2 linked regions of the Homo sapiens genome follow. The protein of the gene in region 1 interacts with the protein of each later gene in a biochemical or structural test. Each region holds a gene or a part of one and is shown on either strand. Other genes may lie near its edges. The genes, in order: OTUD4 and PFKFB3.

What was found.
Region 2: the proteins of OTUD4 (region 1) and PFKFB3 form a complex in vitro, tested with the Homo sapiens proteins (one study listed by BioGRID).

Annotation. Positions count from the first base shown.
Region 1 is NC_000004.12:145,168,417-145,178,650, reverse strand, and holds part of OTUD4 (OTU domain-containing protein 4), read left to right. Parts: intron 1-492; exon of another isoform or gene 493-523; intron 524-3,906; coding exon 3,907-3,990; coding exon of another isoform or gene 3,991-4,011; intron 4,012-6,930; coding exon 6,931-6,981; intron 6,982-10,234.
Region 2 is NC_000010.11:6,218,264-6,228,497, forward strand, and holds part of PFKFB3 (6-phosphofructo-2-kinase/fructose-2,6-bisphosphatase 3), read left to right. Parts: intron 1-285; exon of another isoform or gene 286-308; intron 309-1,255; exon of another isoform or gene 1,256-1,305; coding exon 1,306-1,430; intron 1,431-2,394; coding exon 2,395-2,602; intron 2,603-3,117; coding exon 3,118-3,264; intron 3,265-3,377; coding exon 3,378-3,482; intron 3,483-4,591; coding exon 4,592-4,721; intron 4,722-5,694; coding exon 5,695-5,757; intron 5,758-5,885; coding exon 5,886-5,950; intron 5,951-7,928; coding exon 7,929-8,102; intron 8,103-9,932; coding exon of another isoform or gene 9,933-9,955; intron 9,956-10,234. UniProt on the Homo sapiens protein: Catalyzes both the synthesis and degradation of fructose 2,6-bisphosphate.

The sequences.
Region 1 (10,234 bases):
GCTTTATGTTGCGGACATTGTCATTGAAAAATTCTTCCAAAAGCTCCCCAAACCAGGCTCTGTCCGTTTCTCATTTTCAGTGTTGCTGTGGGGTATGTTCACAGCCACCCACTGCCTCCGGTCCTTATTGTTAGTAGGTAAATAGTCTGCCCCATTTGTGAATTTTCTGAATCTCTGTCTGTCCTGCTTCCTTGGACTCCTCAGCACCTCCAGAAGCCTAGGGAAGAGGTGGAAGTGAATTCAGCCCGTATTTATAACGTACTGTTAGACCTAGCAAGAGTTTGGTAAGCAAGGAGGTAGAAATAAATGGCGGTAAGGGAAGCTTGGCGCTTACTTGGATTTGAGTTATCTTGAGTCCTAGTTTATATTGAAGCAGAAGGGTGTGCCTGATTTCCGTAGTGCATACCATAGATACTCGGTGGCCTTGATTATACAGAAGCCTCTTTTATTATAGTGGGATCTCTGTTTTTAAGTAGAAAAGGGGCAAGAGCTAGTTTACACTAAGAACTCTTTGTTACATCAGGTAACACATTTTATTGTATTTTGTAATGGGGTTTAGGTTAGGCATAAGGGACTACCCTTCCCAGTTATGTGACTCAGTTTTAGTCTGATGAGCTTAGCTGAAGACCTTGAACTTTGGGGGAAGTTCAGTTATTCAGTAGGCTACAGTTATAGCCATCATCGCCAAAGGCAAAGTGTGTGTGTGTGGGAAAAAGGAAGTAATACCAGCGTCAGGCTTCCCTTTTAAAATGTGTACCAATAATTTATATTTTTTGCCAACAATTTCTCCTATAAAATCACAAATACTCATCATTTCTAAGAAGGAATCAAAGTAAATAATCTAAGTGGCAGTTTTTAAAGACGGGGAGGAGACTCGAGTTAGGATTTTGGTCTTTCTCTCCAAATTATCTGATTTAGATAGGCCATTTCCTTTTTACACTTACGGATTTGGGCCTGCCGGAGGCCTGACCTGAATCAGCTCCACAGCCATGGAGCTAAAAATAGGGCAGTCTTGGAGGACTTGCTAAAACAGTGTCTCAGCCTTTCCCAGTATTTATCACTATCTTGTCCCAAGTAAAAATGGGAAAGCCTTCTAGTTTGCTTTCATGTATATATTAATTTGCAGAGATATTTGTCATACTACTTTAATTCTTTCGAAGTGTTATCAACCTTGCACAATAATTTACATTTTAGACAGTTGTCATTTAACCTTGCTTTTCTTGCAGTGCTTGACTTTGTGAATTACCAGCACTCTCACACTTTATAGAAGTTGCTAAGAGTTTTGCTTCTGAGCAACAGGTTCAGATAGATTGTATGTGCCAAAATCTTTGTTAAAAGAGAAGAACCAGTAGATATGCCTACCATTGCTTTTGATTGAAAATAAGCTTTACTAACTTATGTTTGCCACCTGTTGCTAGGTAAATGGCTTTAAGACTAGCTCCACGTTGCTAATGGCAGAGGAAAGCCCTATCAGATGACACTGTGGTTTATTCATACGAGTAATACCTTGATTCATGATAGTGTCTAACATAGCTTCTGTGAAAGAAGTGTTGCTAAATGTCATTTGTTGAATTGGCAAAAAAATTCTACGGTGGTTATTTTTATATATAGATAGTCCTTTTTGGTCACATACTCTTAGAATATATAAGAATATAGTTTAATAGTGTCCAAGAACAGCAGTGAAGGTAGAATCAGTTAAACTGAAAACCAGTTATTACACTGAAAACAAACTAATTGCTAACCTCAACAGGTGCATTTTCAGTGTATCTCAGCGTAATAGGACATACTAGGCGTCCAGGCAGTTGTGCCGGTTCTGTGGGTATAAATGAGCCTTGGTTGTGATCCAAGAGAGCTGTAGAATGCACAGCTGGAGCCTCCCTTTTCCCAAATGCTCTACTCATGCTAAACGTAAAGGGAGAACCACTCAATTGGATCTGTAACTTTTTTTTTTTGAGACAGAGTCTTACTCTGTCACTCAGGCTGGAGTGCCCTGGCACGATCTCGGCTCACTGCAACCTCTGCCTCCTGGTTTCAAGCCATTCTCCTGCCTCAGCCTCCCAGGTAGCTGGGACTACAGGCACGCACCACCACACCTGGCTAATTTTTTTTTTTTTTTTGTATTTTTTAGTAGAGATGGGGTTTTCACCATGTTGACCAGGCTAGTCTCAAACTCCTGACCTCAGGGGACCCACCCTCCTCGGCCTCCCAAAGTGCTGGGATTACAGGCGTGAGCCACAGTGCCCGGCCAGGATCTGTAACTTTTAAAGATACTTTCTATTAATATAAATTCTCAAGAGGCCTTGATGGTAGTTTGAAATGTGTTACTTTAAGTGTGTCTGAGTTTTTTTTTTTTAAACCATAACCCTTTACGGTACAGGAATATCTTTATTTGAGATACCCAGTAATAGAAAAGAATTTTAATCTCCTTTAAGCATGTTAAATAATTGGGAGCTAGGGCCGGGCGTGGTGGCTCATGTCTGTAATCCCAGCACTTTGAGAGGCCCAGGCGGGCAGATCACCTGAGGTCAGGAGTTTGAGACCACCCTGCCCAACATGGTGAAACCCTGTCTCTACTAAAAATAGAAAAATGAGCCGGAAAAAAAAAAAAGAAAGAAAGAAAAATTAGCCGGACATGGCAGCTCCTGTAATCCGGCTACTCGGGAGGCTGAGGCAGGAGAATCGCTTGAACTTGTGAGGCGGAGGTTGCGGTGAGCTGAGATTGCACCACTGCACTCCAGCCTGGTGGGGGAAAAAAGAATTGGGAGCTAGCTAGAAGGAAGCATTGGATAAGAAATAGTTGTTTCAGGCTGGGCACAGTGGCTCATGCCTGTTGTAATCCCAGCACATTGGGAGGTCGAGGTGGGCGGATCACGAGGTCAGGAGTTTGAGACCAGCCTGGCCAAGATGGTGAAACCCTGTCTCTACTAAAAATACAAAAATTAGCCAAGCGCCGTGGTAGTTGGCTGTAATCCCAGCTACTCAGGAGGCTGAGGCAGGAAGATCGCTTGAACCTGGGAGGTGAAGGTTGCAGAGAGCCAAGCTTGCGCCACTGCACTCTAGCCTGGGTGACAGAGCAGGACTCCGTCTCAAAAAAAAAAAAAGAAATAGTTGTTTCAATTCACAGCTTTAGAATTTTGGTAAAAGACCACATGCCAGTAAGTTATCTTTTTGTTGAACTGGTTGTTTAATAGAAGAAAATGTAAACTGCAGAGTGAGAGGATCTGGATCATACTTTGTAGGTTGGTACTTTACAATTTAGGGCATAAAAACAAACCCCAAACCTCTTGGGATGATACCACACAACATTTTTGCACCCCCTATGCTGCCTACTTGGATGTTCTTTCTTGTCTTATAAGCTTGATCACCAAGGAAAGAATGAGTGCCTTAATTTTTCTGAAACCATAGTGGACTTAAATTTTTACACAGAGCCTCTAAGTGGATTCAGAATTAATGGGAAAAATAAATCGGCCTCTTACAGGCTGAAAGCCTCAAAATACATTCCTACAGAAGTTGCCAGTTTGTCTTTTTCAATATGTATAGGATGAAGTTGAGCGTGGCGTAGCATGGATTTTGTTAGCTCTTCTTTGTGAAGAGTAAAGTTATTGTGGAGGGAAGGCCAAGGGAAGAGAGTGTCCTAAATTTACAAAAATGTCCTAAAGGAGAAAGGCTAATAAATTCTTTACAAATTTGGCTTAAGAAGTAGTATTGTTTGTATATGTCATGTCTTCGCTGTGCTTAGTTAGAAGAAGAGGTAGGAATGAGTAAAGATATCGAAATTATAGAAAGGGAAATGGAGAAAGACTGATAATCTATTGGTTGTCAGATTATTTTGGGTGTAAAAGAAGACATTAGGTTGTAACTTTTAACTAAATGCTTAATAGTGTGTTTGTTGCCTTTTCTTTTTAGGTATTGCACTCTCAGTCTCGCCATGTTGAAGTCAGAATGGCCTGTATTCACTATCTTCGAGAGAACAGAGAGAAATTTGAAGCGGTAACTTGTAATTTCAAACATGTAATGGTGTCTTGACTTGGTTTTACATTTTGGCTTTTAGAAGTGTTCTAGTAGAATTTCACAGGCTGGATCTTAATGCGGGTTATGAAAATAACACTTATTAAAAAAACTTCTCTATTGAACTTAATCTAGTTATATTCAGTTATGTTGTTTTCTAGGCTATTTTATGTTTTGCATTTATTTGGACATTTAGAAAGCTACTATGATGGATAAGACGCTGAGCTGTGGGGGATGGAAAGATGACCTGGACAAGGCCCTTGCATACTAAGAGTGGGCTTTGTCTGACATGGTCAGGGAATTGGGGGTGTTGTGATTAATAGTGGTTTCTGTGATGGGTAACTCCCTATAAATTAAAAGAAAAAAAATTCAGTCTGGGCATGGTGGCTCACACCTGTAATCCCAGTACTTTGGGAGGTGAAGAGTTCAAGACCAGCTTGGCCAACATGGCAAAACTCTGTGTCTACTAAAAGTAGTGGCATGGTGGCACATGCCTGAGTCCCAGCTACTCTTGAGTCTGAGGCACGAGGATTGCTCGAACCCAGGAGGCAGAGGTTGCAGTGAGCCGAGTTGCGCCGCTGCACCACAGCCTGGGTGACAGAGTGAGACTCTGTCTCAAAAAAAAAAAAAAAAAAATTCAGACTTGCAGTGTAAAAAATACGCTGAGTGTAAGTAATGCTGAACCCTTAATTTTATCAGAAGGCATTCATAGGTTTTTAATTTTCAGGGTTCAGTGTGAACTCACATGTCAGAACATTATAATTATGTAAGTAGTGATTAATAGTTAATAAAATGTTGTATAACAGCTTAATATAATTTTCTCAGTAGTATGTGAAATAAGATGCCACAGTGACCTGTTTTCATTTTACATTCAAAGTCTTACAGGATTTATTACTTACTGGTTTTAAGACCTAGAATTATGTAATCTGACAACTTTGGGTGTTATTTCCCCCAGTTGACTGGTAGAGAATGTTGATATAATACTTTGCAAATGATAGGCTTGAAACCTTGTTTTATTAAAAAAACCTGGTAACGCAGAGGCTAGATAAGAGAGTGCAGAGGTGTGGTAGAGAAGGGAAGTGGGGAGGTGGAATGGTCTTTAAATTAATTCTTATTAATCATTGGCCCCAGAGGGTAAAACTGTGTTGATAATAATGGACATTGCTAACATTGGTTGAGGTGCTTACTATATGCCAGGCATTAAGTGTTTTGCATATATTTTTTTTAGTCCATATAATTTTTTTTTTTTGAGACAGAGTCTCGCTCTGTCGCCCAGGCTGGAGTGCAGTGGCGCCATCTTGGCTCACTGCAAGCTCCGCCTCCCGGGTTCATGCCATTCTCCTGCCTCAGCCTCCAGTGTAGCTGGGTCTACAGGTGCCTGGCACCATCACGCCAGGCTAATTTTTTGTATTTTTAGTAGAGATGGGGTTTCACCATGTTAGCTAGGATGGTCTCGATCTCCTGACCTCATGCTCTGCCTGCCCCGGCCTCCCAAAGTGCTGGGATTACAGGCGTGAGCCACCGTGCCTGGCCTTAGTCCATATAATTTTATGAGGTATGATCAGAGGTTGAAAGTTCCATGGGGAAAAGTTTCACTTTCCTTTTATGAACCTTCAAGCAGTTTCAGTTGTCCAGAATTGGAAAGAGATGTTGTAGAAAGTATTATGCCTTGTTACTGACATTGTTCAGCCATGGCATAGGTGGACGCTTTCTGCTCAGAAAGGAGACTCTCAGAGAGGATGCAGGCTTGTGTCAGAATTCTGCAGTCTCTAGTAACTTTAAATGGTTCTGTGTTTTTTTTTTCCTTAGACCTATAATCATCTAATACAGAACAGTAGCCCTTTATTGGTGGGCTCTTTAATATATATGGCTCTTTTATTATAAATATCTTTCGAAATTTAAGATATTTTTGGCAATTTGACATTATATAATCTATGAAAGAATCTCAATCTTAAAATCCAAGGGTGCTTAAAAGATTTTATAGACAAGGGAGTATACTTTAATGTCTTTAAGTATATCTCTGCTAAATCAACTGGGACTGTAATTTAAACGCAATTGAATTTGGTGGTTCAACAAATGACTTTTAGAGATTTCTCAAATGAGTGCGATTGCTATTAAAGAAACATAAAAAAGGTTGTGTTATTACACAGCTTGAATAAACTGTTTTTATGTCAAAGTAACAATGAAGCGATGAAGCAAGCTGTATTAGAAAAATTTTGTTGATGCTTCAAAATATTTTTCGCCTTACTAGTTCTCATCGCTCTTTCTAGTATCACTTGAGAGACAATGAGTACTCTTATCTGTATTATTAAGCTATACTATTTCTTAGCTTGTAAGTCAGTCTTTGTTTTATTCCCTTCTACACACTGGTCACTACCAAGTTAAAGCACTGCTTTCATCATATAATTTCTCAGTTCAGAATGTCACCTGAAGTGGCCTTGAATGGCCTTTCTCATCTAGCCTTCAAGTCCTGCCTGGGCTCAAGGCCCTCTGTAAACAGGCCCCCCTTTGGGTTCTTCTCCCACTCAGTTCCACAACAGGTTGTCCTGCTCCAGCTGGCCAGATTGCTTGTCTTCCCAACACAGTGTTCCTCTTCCTCCTCACGCCACATTGGCCCTCTCTGTAGAGTATCAGCTGCCTGTTGCCATCCAGATCCTGTCCAGCATTCATCTTGAGTCACTCTTCTTTCAGGAAACCTTTCCTGACAGAATTTCCTTCTTTAAATTCTTTTGTATGTTTATAGTCTTTAATGATTGCTATATGTTTTCATAATTAGATTATGTACATATTTTTAAATAATACTGAGGTATTTTAGGTTTATGTACAAACTCAGTAATTCACAGTGAATGTTTACACAGCGAAGCGGTTAACTGTTTTGGCATATATGTTAGATGACATTTCTAATAGATTTATTTTTTGCAGTTTATAGAAGGATCATTTGAAGAATATTTAAAGCGTTTGGAAAATCCACAGGTATGTCACAGTCTTCTAGTATATTTCTATTTTTATATATCCAAATAATGTATTTAAAATTCATTAAAATAGAAGATTACTATTACAGTGTATAGAGGAGTTGCAGTGACGGTGTATCCTATTTCCTTATAAACGTTTCCTACACATTTTATGCAGCACTTAAGTTGGAGCTATATGTTAGAGGTTGCCTCACTAAGGCAGAGTTGTGATATTTTATCTTGGCTATAATGGCATGTAAATGTAGTATAAAAATCTGAAATAATACTGGGGTGATGATTTTCAGAATGCTACGTTGGTGTGTGTATGGAACTTGGACAGGGTGAAGTTTGATTTCTTTTTTTTTTTTTTTGAGGTGGAATTTAACTCCATTGCCAGGCTGGAGTGCATGGCATGATCTCGGCTCACTGCAGCCTCCGCCTCCCGAGTTCAAGCGATTTGTCTCCCGAGTATCTGGGACTACAGGCGTGCACCACCATGTCCAGCTAATTTTTTTATTTTTAGTAGAGATGGGGTTTCACCATATTGGCCAGGATGGTCTCGATCTCTCGACCTCGTGATCCGCCTGCCTCAGCCTCCCAAAGTGCTGGGATTACAGGTGTGAGCCACCACACCTGGCCTGCAGAGTTTTTCTTCCTAGGCAACTGAGAAGGCAGAGTTCTTTCATGCAGGTTCCTATTTCCATGATCATCTCGTGAAGAGGGAAGAGACTGTTGAGACAGAAAAGGATAGCACTTACTCACCAACTCCTGCTGCTATACTTTTTCAGTCATGTTTATGTTAAAAGGATTTTTCTTAATTTTTCTGTTTACAAAACTAACGTTCTCACTGTAAAAATCCAAGTATCTTGGAATGCCATTTAGAATGTTAAGGTAAAAATAACATTGGCAAAGAAAAAAGCTAAGAAGAGTTAAGGAGTAAAGGGAATGTAATGTAGGAACCAAGGGTGTTTGATCGATGACTGATGTATCCATTTGGTTGCCTAACACTAATTTGAGTGCTTGTTATGGGCCAAGAATTCCTAGTCACCCTGGGGATGCAGAGATAATGTAGATAACAAAAAAGTTTCCCTATCATAGGAAAGAAGGTCAATACAAGCTAGAAAAGGAGATTTGTCACAAGAGGTATATAGCTGTGATGCTGTAGGCATTCAAAGTGTTATTTCTAGCTGGGTAGACAAAGCAACACTTGGAGAGTGAGTTGTATTTGAAGTCTGAATGGATTCTAAATAGGAAATGCCTGGGCTGAAGGGCATTCCAGGCAGTGAAAACTGTGAGCAAAGCAGATTCAGAAAACAGTTCCAATTGTGTGGAGCATTGAGTATGTGAAGATAAGAAGTGGTGAGAAAGGAGTTGGAAGGCAGGTTGGGGCCAGACTGTGGGAGAGCCTTCAGTGTTAGGGTCAGTGGTTTGGAGCTTATGCTTTAGACCCGTGTTTCTCAAAGTGTGATCTGTAGGTTATCTGTATCAAAATCACTTGATGTGCATGTGAAAATGCAGATTCCCTGGCCCCTATTCCATACCTGAATCAGGGCCTCTGGGCCTGGGGCCTAGGCATCAGGCATTGGGAAACCATATAAGGTTTTTGGGGCAGGAAGTCAGAGTAGTGGTTATCCTATCTAAAATTGTAATTCTCAGCTTCCATCACTTTCCCTGTACCCCTCTCTGCTTTATTTTTCTCTGTAGTGCTTATATCATTTAATGTACTGTGTACTTTGTCATCTTCCTACTTGAATTAAGCTCCATGAACACAGAGTTCTGTATGCTTTATTCACTGCTGTGTTCCAGTTCTGAGGGATTTTGTTGACTGAAGGGTTGGATGGCATCTTCTGACAGTTGTTTCTTTTTTGTTACTAGCAACAAATATTTATAAATCTTCATTCTTATTTTTTTGCTTTCCTGGGCTGGGCACAATGGCTCGTGCCTGTAATCCCGGTACTATAGGAGGCAGAGGCGGGAGGATCACTTGAGGTCAGGAGTTCAAGATGGTGAAACCCTGTCTCTACCAAAAATACAAAAAAATTAGCCAGGCGTGGTGGTGTGCACCTGTAGTCCCAGCTATTCAGGAGGCCAAGGCAGGAGAATCGCTTGAACCTGGGATGCAGAGGTTGCAGTGAGCTGAGATTGTGCCGCTGCACTCCAGCCTGGGCAACAGGGTGAGACTCCATCTCAAAAAATAAATAAATATATTTTTTTGCCTTCCTAATATATGGCTGTATAAAATGGAAACAGAAACCATTTGGCAGATATTTGATGGATAAACTCAGTTGCTTCATCCAGTTCTCAGAGAAAGCATCTTTATCCTCTTAATGAGTAATAGTGGAGCATTTTGAAGGTACTTCAAACTTGTGCGAGAATATGTTTTTGTCAGCTTTGAGGTAAAATTGACATACAGTGAAATTCATCACTTATAAATATACAATTTGATGAGATTTGACAAGTGTATATGCTCATGTAACCACCACAGCAAACATCATAAAGGACATTTCCATCTCTCCAGAAAGTTTCCTTTTGCCTTTTTGCAGTTAATCCTCTTCCGCCTATCCCCTGGGACCTGGCAAGCACTGATTTGCTTTCTAAGTTTTGCTGTTTCTAGATGCATATAAGTGGAATGATAGAGTTTGTAGTCTTATGTATTTGGCTTCTTTCACTTAGCCTATTGGAAATACTAAAATTCATTCATGCGTTTAGCAGTAGTTCCTTTTTATTGAAGAAAAATAATCTGTGTATGTATCTATCACAACCTGTGTATACATTTACCAGCTGATTGATATTTAAGTTCTTTACAGTTCTGGGTTGTTAAAATTGAAGCTGCTGTGAACAATTGCTTATAAATCTTTGTGTAGACATGTGTTTTCTTTTTTCTTGGATTAATACCTTAGAGCAAAATTGCTTGGTCATCTGGTAAACATATTTTTAAGAAACTGCCAAACTTTTTGAAGTGACTGTACCATTTTGCTTTCTCATCAGCAATATTATGAGAATTTCAGTTTCTCCACATATTTGCCAGCACTCTTTGTGATTTAACTTGAATTTCTCTAATGATGTTGAGCATCTTTTCATGTGCTTATTTGTCATCTATCTAATTTTGTTGGTGAAATGTCTGTTCATAGGTTTTTGCCCATTTTTTAATTGCTGTTGTTCTTACTGAATTTTACTAGTTCTTTATACTGGATATAAGTCCTGTATTGGATATGTGTTCTACAAATACATTCTTCTAGTTTGTATTTTGGCTTTCCATTTTCTTTTTTTTTTTT
Region 2 (10,234 bases), on another chromosome or scaffold:
TTGCCCCAACCCACCATGTTCAGAAATCTCTTTCTGATGAAATCTCAAAGCAGCTTGGTAGAGCCAGGCATTTGTGAACTTAGATTTTTTTTTTAAATTGTGGTAAAATATACATAATGTAAAATTTACCATCTTAATCATTTTTATTATTTATTTATTTATTTATTTATTTATTTATTTATTGAAACGGACTCTCCTTCTGTTGCCCAGGCTGGAATGCAGTGACACGGTCTTGGCTCACTGCAACCTCTGCCTCCCGGGTTCAAGCGATTCTCCTGCCTCAGCCTCCCGAATAGCTGGGATTACAGGTGTGCGCCACCACGCCCAGCTAATTTTTTTTGTATTTTTAGAGGAGACGGGGGTTTCACTGTGTTGGCCAGGCTGGTCTCAAACTCCTGACCTCAAGTGATCTGCTTGCCTTGGCCTCCCAAAGTGCTGGGATTACAGGCGTGAGCCACTGCATCCGGCCATTTTAGCTATTTTTTAAGTGTGCAGTACAGCAGCAAATTATATTCCCATTGTTGGGCAACCGCCACACTCTATCCGCAGGACTTTCTCATCTTCCCCGGCTGAAACTGTGCCAGGACACAGGCACAGCTCCCGACTGACTCGATCTTTGAAGAGTGGCTGCCTCTCAGTGACGGCAGTGGTTGATGAGAAAAAGAGCCCAGGCATTCAGAAATGCTGAGTTTCCCTAAAATCCACCTGGTTTCTGGGGCCTGTGCCACTGTGGGTGTTGGTAGACCTGTGTTGTTGCCTAGGAGAGCGAGCCCTGCAAAGGAGCCGGCACAGCCCTAGTTGGAGAAGCAGTTAACCACGGACTGGTCACACTGGGGCTGCCTCAGGCAGTGGGGGGTGGAGGAGAAACCACACAAGGCCAGAGGCATCTCTGGGAACTCCTGAGCATACCTTAGAACCAGCAGCCTCCTCCCGGCACGGGGAGCATTGCGGATCCTCACGTGGAGCTCGGTTGAGTTCAGCGCCAGGCTGTCTGGCGGTGACTCGGGCACGGGACAGATCCTGACTTGCTGGAGCATTCAGAGGTGTTCATTATGGAATCCCTGTGGGTTTCCTGTCTCTGTCCTTCCGGCTTCAGTTCTCCATCTCCCCAGGGAATCCTCCCCATGTAACATCAGGCTGTGACTCAGCCCCCAGCATCTTTCTCCCTTTCTCTTACACGCTGGGCCGGATAATCTTTATACTGAGCCTTCTGTGCGCTCCCCTTTTGAAAGCCCCAAATCCTGCTTAATCTCAGCAGAAAGCCTTCCAGCGTGATTTATCAGCCACCCCTTTGTGGTGTTGCAGGAAGTTAAAATCTCCAGCCCGGATTACAAAGACTGCAACTCGGCAGAAGCCATGGACGACTTCATGAAGAGGATCAGTTGCTATGAAGCCAGCTACCAGCCCCTCGACCCCGACAAATGCGACAGGTGATTCCCGTGGCTGGCCGTCTCTGCAAGACCCACATGAGGGTTCTTACTGAATTCTTGATGTTCCCACAAAGGATTTGCTCCTGGATACCTTTAAAAAAATTTTTTTAAGACAGTTTTTTTTGTAGAGATGAGGTCTCGCTATGTTGCCCGGGCTGGTCTTGAGCTCCTGGCCTCAGGTGATCCACATACAGCCGCTGGATACCTTTATCAACTCTCTTTGAAAATATCTTTTAAAAACAATCCTTGATGACAAATCATATTCAGTGGGAATATTTTGAACACTGTGTAGAAGTACAGGAAGTCAACATAGAGTTGAGCCTGATTTTGCTACTGTCCCTCCGATAGTTCCTTTCTTTTTTCTTTCCTTTCTTTCCATTTATTTATTTATTTATTTACTTACTTACTTGCTTGCCTGCTTGCTTAGAGACAGGGTCTCCCTTTGTCTCCCAGGCTAGAGTGCAGTGGCATGATCATAGCTCACTGCAGGTTCAAACTTCTGGGCTCAAGTAATCCTACCGCCTCAGCCTCATGAGTAACTGGGACTACAGGTGTGGGTGTCCACGCCCAGCTAATTTTTTTTTTCTTTAGTAGAGATGAGGTCTTGCTATGTTGCCCAGGCTGGTCTTGAACTTCTAGACTCAAGCAATCCTCTTGCCTCGGCCTCCCAAAGTGCTGGGATTACAGGCATGAGCCACTGCACAGGCCCCTTTCTTTTTTTCTCCATTTTCTTTCTTTTTTCTCCCCCTTTTCTGGGAGGCAGGCCAGCCTCACAGCCAGACACCAGCTGTGGGAGTTGTCTTACGCATATGCTCTGCCCCTTAGAAGGATTCAGTCTGTGCCCTGGAGGGGCCTACGGTCCCGCCTTGCTGTTCTCTGGGGATCACATCTTCGGAGACGGGCCAGGTGCATCCTGCTGTGGGTGGTGGCCTGAGCTGTGGTTCTCGGTGGGGTCTCTCTGCAGGGACTTGTCGCTGATCAAGGTGATTGACGTGGGCCGGAGGTTCCTGGTGAACCGGGTGCAGGACCACATCCAGAGCCGCATCGTGTACTACCTGATGAACATCCACGTGCAGCCGCGTACCATCTACCTGTGCCGGCACGGCGAGAACGAGCACAACCTCCAGGGCCGCATCGGGGGCGACTCAGGCCTGTCCAGCCGGGGCAAGAAGGTGCGGGGTGTGCTGCCGCATGGGCCGTTCTGGCTGTAGGGCGGTTGCAGGGTCTATAGGGTGGGTGGGGAGCTGTGTGCTGCTGCTGCTGCTGCTGCTGCTGCTTGGTGTGCTTGCTGTGTGTGTTATCTGTGTGTGCGCCTGCACGTCTCTATGCATATCTGTGTGCATCTCTGTATGGCTCTGTGTGTGTGTGTGTCTACGCCTATCCATGTGGCTTTGTGTGTGTGTGTCTTTGTGTTACTTTGTATGTGTTTGTATGTGTGTCTCTGGTGTGTGTATCTCTGTGCATGTGTGTGATGTGTGCGCGGTTGTGCACTAGGAAGGGAAGGGGCAGGAAGAGCTGAGCCTGGTCTCTGGGTAGGGTGTGTGCGGCTGTGGCTGTCCCAGTGGCCTGGGGCCCCCACGGTGTAACCAGGTAGTGCACAGCCCTACGTGGGCTGCCTGCTCCAGCCCTGGCTCTTGGAGGAGCTGCGGGCATCTGGAATCAGTGGTCCCCCTCCACCACCTCTCAGTTTGCCAGTGCTCTGAGCAAGTTCGTGGAGGAGCAGAACCTGAAGGACCTGCGCGTGTGGACCAGCCAGCTGAAGAGCACCATCCAGACGGCCGAGGCGCTGCGGCTGCCCTACGAGCAGTGGAAGGCGCTCAATGAGATCGACGCGGTGAGTCCTGGGAGGCGGGCAGGCAGCCTCACCCTCGGGCATGGGGCGGCTTCCCAAGAGGCCCTAGACACCCCTGTGGTTTGTTCCCCTGAGTGACCACTGGGTCCCCGCAGGGCGTCTGTGAGGAGCTGACCTACGAGGAGATCAGGGACACCTACCCTGAGGAGTATGCGCTGCGGGAGCAGGACAAGTACTATTACCGCTACCCCACCGGGGAGGTGAGCGCAGGCTGGGGCGGGCTGACGGTCCCCAGCACACATGACCACTGCTGTGCAGGGCTGGGCCACCCCTCCAGGGAGTTCACTTCCGTGTGGGTTCTGGGGGCTCCTACACCCTCCACCTTGGAACTGAGTCCCCCCAAACTGAACCTTCTAACAGCCTGGGGTGAAGTGCATTTTCCCATAAGCAGAAGTGAGATGTGTTTCCCTAGGGACATAGAACTATATGGGAGAGGAGGAAGGTGGTGTGTGAAGGTCCACTGGGCAGGGTGGTGGGCAGGCTGGCAGGAGGGGTGGCTCTATATCCCCTGGGCAGCGTCTGTGCTTCCCCGTGCACGGTGCCCGGGTGGCTGTGGCTGAGGACGCTGTTGCCTCCTCTGCCGATGGGATCCTCCTGGGCCTGGTGTGTCCTCCCTGCCCGTGCCCTGCTGAGCAGTGTCGTGCCTCAGGCCCCTGCAGGCCCACTGTCCTCTGGCCTCAGACTAAGCCTTACACACCGGGGCCCTGGTTAGCACAGCAGAGAGCCCACAGGAGCAGGAGCTTTTCTGGTCTTTTTCTAAAGTCACAGCCCTCCTGCTTCTTTTTACATTTTTAAATTGATAGAAAATACACATAACCTAAAATTGACCACTTTCATCACGTTAAAGTTATGATTTAGTGCATGTTAGTGTACTCACAGTGCTGTGCAGCCATCACCACAAATTCCAGGCCTTTCCCTCACTGCACAAAGAAACCCAGACCTGTTAGGAGCCGCTCCCGCCTGCCCGGCCCAGCCCCGGCACCGGCCCGTCTGCTTCCTGCATCTGGATCTGCCTATTCTGGGCATTCCATGTCAGTGGAGTCAGATGCCACACGTGCCTTTTGCGCCCAGTTCTTTCACACAGCATTGAGTTTTCCAGGTTCCCCCGTGTGGGAGCGGAGTGGGGAGGGCTTCACTCTTTTTGTGGCTGAGCAATAGTCCACGTTAAACCCTGCTCCTTCTCAACCACTGCTGATGATGGATGATTGATTTTGCGTGGCTCTCTGGCCGGTCTGATGCAGTCTGTGGCCAGCGGCAGAGCCCCTCCCGAGTGCCCTGAGCTCACGTGGGCCCGGCCCTCTGTGCTCAGTCCTACCAGGACCTGGTCCAGCGCTTGGAGCCAGTGATCATGGAGCTGGAGCGGCAGGAGAATGTGCTGGTCATCTGCCACCAGGCCGTCCTGCGCTGCCTGCTTGCCTACTTCCTGGATAAGAGTGCAGGTACCTCGGGCAGGTCGTGGCCCCGGGATGGAGGGAGGAGGGGACTGGCACTCGGCGGGGGGTCAGCCGCAGACCTGCCGTGGCCTGCCCTGTGTTGGCTGCTGTGCCATGGGGTGTTAGGAGAAGGGCACAGGTGTCGGCTCCCGGCTGCTTCAGGTCCTCTCTGTCCAGCGCTTCCTTGAAGCCCTTGGGAAATGCTGTGGAGCCCAGGTTGATGCCGGGGACTTCATTGCTTCATAAACAGCTCCCTGAGACCCGCCCCTGGCTCCACACATCCCAGGGTCTTGGCTTGGGGTGGGGGCTGCACTTCTCTTCAGTGCCCTCTAAGGAACAAACAGCCCGGAAAACTCTGACAATCCCATTGAAATGTTAAGTCTTAGCATGTCCAGTCCAGTGCAGCTGAATCCCTAGACAGACCTAAATTGTTTGGGAGTGACTTTTTCCCAACTCTAAGTCACCGTGAGGGCGAGTCTTTTGGTTTGGTTTGATGGCACTCTTTGGGCTAAAGTCTTCTTCTGGGGCCAGCTGCTGCCCGGGACAGCTTGTGGCTGGGGACAGATGCCCCTGCCCGACAGGGCTTCCGAGGGTCCTTGTTGGGGGGACCGTAAAGGTCTTTCCATGCCTCCCCCACCCTCATGTCTCATTTCTTTTTTTTGAGACAAAGTTTTGCTCTTCTTGCGCAGGCTGCAGTGCAATGCATGCACTCACTGCAACCTCCACCTCCCAGGTTCAAGCGATTCTCCTGCCTCAGCCTCCTGAGTAGCTGGGATTATACGCATGTGCTACCACACCCTGGCTAATTTTGTATTTTTAGTAGAGATGGGGTTTTGCCATGTTGGTCAGGCTGGTCTTGAACTCCTGACCTCAGGTGATCCACCTGCCTCGGCCTCCCAAAGTGCTGGGATTACAGGCGTGAGCCACCACGCCTGGCCGTGTCTCATTTCTAACTGTGGGTGTACAATTTCAATTTCAGAGGAGATGCCCTACCTGAAATGCCCTCTTCACACCGTCCTGAAACTGACGCCTGTCGCTTATGGTGAGTAGCAACCCCTGCCAAGCCCTGTCCCCCTGAAGGTGGCCACAGTAGCTTCTTGTGGCCGTGGGCTGTAAGCGGTGCTGTCCCTTTAACAGCAGCTTCCTCTGCCCCCATCCCACGCCCTCCAGGCTGCCGTGTGGAATCCATCTACCTGAACGTGGAGTCCGTCTGCACACACCGGGAGAGGTCAGAGGTGAGTGGAGGCCCCAAGCCTCATCCTGGCCATCATCACACGATAGCCCTAGTGGGTGATGGGCGCTCAGGAGGCCCCGGGGCCGCTTGCCTGCAGGTGCTGGCCTGTCTGGGGCCATGGGCCTGCTGGCTGCCTTCCTCAGCACCTCTTTGTTCCTGCCTGTCTGTTCTGTGGCTTCTGGGGCCTTCTCATTTTCTTTCTTCCTGTGTCCTCTTCCTCCCATTTCTGCTGAGCTCGAGATATGAATATTAGTGAGGAAGATACATTCTCTCTTTTTTTTTATTTGAGACAGGGTCTCAGTCTGTTCCCCAGGCTGGAGTGCGGTGGCGCAGTCACGGCTCACTGCAGCCTCAACCTCCTGGGTTCAAGTGATCCTCCCGCCTCAGCCTCCCGCGTAGCTGAGACTACAGGTGCGCACCACCATGCCCAGCTAATTTTAATTTATTCATTTTTTTAGATAATGGGGTCTCACTGTGTTGCCCAGGCTGGTCTTGAACTCCTGGGCTCAAGTGATCCTCCTGCCTTAGTCTCCCAAAGTGCTAGGATAAAGGTGTGAGCCGTTGTGCCCAGCGTCTCTTCTCTTTAACATCAGCATGGCACAGTTCTTGTTGCCTTTCCTTTCTGGCAGCTAAAACCAGTGCTTTCAGTTTCCAGAGTTACTGTTTCAAACAGGATCAGCAGGTCAGCGCCGCCATGTGCTTGTGATTAGGCTCAGAACCACCAAGAACACGGTGTTGAGAGACGGGAGGCGTGGAGAGCAGAGGCCTGGGGGGTGGCGGGTGGGGAGGCGCTTCAGGAGACCTCGAGGCCTGGCCGTGCAGCTGCTGTCTACCTTGGGGGGAGGCCTGACATTTGGAGGTGGGCCAGGCTGCCTCTGACTGAGTAGAGTGGGCCTCTGCTCAGGTGGACGCGTGTTGTGAAAGTGAGTTTGAATTCACCGTGTACAGGCTGCCAAAAGTACAACACTGTGCTAGTACTAGTCAGACCTTTCTCTTAGACCGAGCGTGACTTTCTGTCATGGCGTTCCCGAAACAGGTGACTGTCTAGTCCCAGGAAGCTTGGCCTTCGGATTTTGGCATGAAGGGATGAGGTGTCCGCCCCAGTCGCTGGCAGTTGCCTGGCTGGTGGGCTGACCTGAGAGAGGCTGGGGTCCCTTGGCCGCCTTGGTCCCTGTCACCCCCTCCACTTCGGAATGTGGGTCACCGGATGCTGTCCTGCCTTTAGCCATATGACAACAGCCCTGGTCAGGGAGCCACTGCCCCCGCTATGGGATTGGGCCTGAGCCGGTCCTGGAGCTCTTCCCTGCAGGGAATGGGGGCAGGGCCATGATGGAGACAGATCCCGGTTCTGAGGCTGGAGGCCCACACCCCATCACGCTGTCCCTCTCATGGGAGGGCTGTGTCTGGTCCTGGCCGCAGAACCTGCTTCCTGCTGCACATTTTCTGCGCCTTTGGTCTCCAGGCTTGTTTTGCAGCCTCCGTGCCCCATCCTAAGCCAGGGTGCCCTTTGTGTAGTAGAGATGGCTCTTCAGATCCTGCCTCGGGTCAGCGGAAGGGAGTCAGCACAGTTGCCTTCCCCTCCCCAGCCTGTGAGCCTCAGGCCCAGCCTCTCCCTCCTAGATGCCCCTCCTCAGCTCTCAAGAGAGGCTGGAAGCAAAGCTCTTTTCTCCGACCTCACGCTCTGCTGTGATCATCATTCTTTCCCTCCTTGCTTTGCAAGCACCGTGTTTGTCTGTGTGGGGAATCCTTTGGTACCATCCGAGGAAGGGGGCATGGGAGGGAATTGCCCCCATTCTTGCTGCCTGGCAGTCACCGCACACTCAGCAGCCCATGGTCCCTGGCCCGTGGTCCCGGCCACTCCCCTCGGTCAGTCTTTTTGCCTCTCTAAAATCCAGGAGCAGAGAAACTTTTTTGGGGCTAATTTTCCTCCCCTTCTTTGTAACTGTCGCCTTTCTCTCTTTTGTCTTTGTCTTGCTTAGGATGCAAAGAAGGGACCTAACCCGCTCATGAGACGCAATAGTGTCACCCCGCTAGCCAGCCCCGAACCCACCAAAAAGCCTCGCATCAACAGCTTTGAGGAGCATGTGGCCTCCACCTCGGCCGCCCTGCCCAGCTGCCTGCCCCCGGAGGTGCCCACGCAGCTGCCTGGACAAGTCAGTGCACTCCCCTTTCCTTCCTGCCTGGGGGACGCATGCCGGGCGTGATGCCACAGATCTGGGATTGCGTGCGTGTGTGTTTGCAAGAATACGTGCGTGGGTGCGTGTGGGTGCGCGTGCGTATGTTGTAGGTGTCTGTGCACGTGTGTTGTGGGGGCATGTGCACACACTCACGTGTTGAGGGAGAACATAGGAAGCACCCTCCGAAGTTAAGATCCTGGGGGCTTTCCTTGCTGGTGACAACCGTGACTGCGTTCGCCTCCTTTCTGAGGATGGGGTCTTTACAGGGCAGAAGCAGGCAGTGCAGAAGGAAGAGTGAGATGTCCAAGACCCGTTCACGTTCGTGAATGGTTATTTCTAAAACAAAGAAAGTGGCTACTTTCTCACATAAATAACATGGTTATCCCAGCAGGTAGTAAAAAACCTAACAAACAAGGCCAGGCGCGGTGGCTCACGCCTGTAATCCCAGCGCTTTGGGAGGCCGAGGTGGGCGGATCACCTGAGGACAAGAGTTCCAGACCAGCCTGGCCAACATGGCGAAACCCTGTCTTTACTAAAAATACAGAAATTAGCCAGGTGTGGAGGCGGGCGCCTGTAATCCCAGCTTCTCAGGAGGCTGAGGCAGGAGAATTGCTTGAACCCAGGAGGCGGAGGTTGCAGTGAGCCGAGATGGTGCCACTGCACTCCAGCCTGGGTGACAGAGGGAGACTCCGTCTCAAAAAAAAAAAGCAAAAAACCCCAACCCGATTTCACTTATTTCATTAATTTTGAAGGTTACAGGCCTGGAAGATTTTGGTTGTCAGACATTAAGATTTGTTTTCAGAAAACTGTTTGTTTTCAGAAAACTGGTCTTTTCCTTTACAGCCTGGAACCCTTGCAAATATGTGAGATGTAGGAATTTCTGTGCTTAAATTCAGGTACCACCCAAGGGTCTGCCCTACCTCCACCCTCCAGGCCTGCCCCCACAAATCAGCCCAGTGCAGCTTCCGGTCAGGTTTGTTGATGAGCCGGATGCTGGTGCTGGCTCTGAGCATCCTTTTCAGCCTGCCACCTCTTCCCGCCTTTTCCGAGACTTCCTTAGACCTCATGATGTCTGGAATGTGACCTGGGAGATGCTGCAGCCTCCACAGGTCACTTAACCTCTCCAGGCCTCAGTTTTTTCATCCAGGCAATGGGGGAATAATGGCAGTGCAGAAGTCAGATCAGATGAGGGGATTCATGCCCTGCATCAGGCCCAGTGTCGGGCATGTGGTGGGGACGCGTAGACACGGTGAGGTGGCTGTGATTAGCGGAAGCCTGGAGGCCTGGCTTTGGTGGTAGCTCCACACTAACATGAGTGCAGCAATTTAATTGCCCAGGTTCCTTCCCCTCCCAGGCCCTCAGTCTCCTTAGCTTTGCACATGATAGGAGCAGGACTGGGAGAGCTCTCATACATATTCCCTTGCAGGTCTCAGATCTGAGGGTTTTTATGAAAAGCCAGCAGAACTGAAATGGTGTCCCTGTGGCATCCGTTCTGATGGAAATGTGCAGTTGTATTTGGAAGTTCAGAGGCCGCTGCTTTGATGCTTGGGGGGACCAGGCTGGGGAAGGGGGTTGATATCCTGAGCTGCACAGACCTCCGTCGTGGAGGACGCAGTGGCAGGGGCTGCATCCTCCTGTCCGCTTCAGAGCTGCCCCTGGCGTTGGGAGGACAGTCCTTCAGGGTGGCCAGGTTCTTAGGGACGTCTGAAGCTGCTGGCTGGGCCGGCGTGGGGTTTTTCAGGGCTTCGTCCCTGCAGATTGCGCCCTGCCTCCTGACTGACTTCTCTCTCTGCTTCTCCTCCGCAGCCTTTGCTAGGGCAAGCCTGTCTGTAAGTATCTCTCCGATCATCGCTGCTGCTTGCACTGCTTTCTTCCTGCTTGCTCATTTGGCCTCCTGCCTGTTAAAATATTGAGGATGAGAGCAGTTTTGTGATGTGAGGTCTTCCGTGGGGGAAGGAGGAGATGGGCGTAGGAGTAGGGAGGAGAGATTCCTGAATGTTTTTGGAAAAGCGTGCAGGCGGTCATGGTGGCTGCACTACTGTTGGGTGTGTTCCGACACCGCCGCACGACCGCTGGCTTCTCCCCTACCCTCTCAGGGCTGCAGGTCG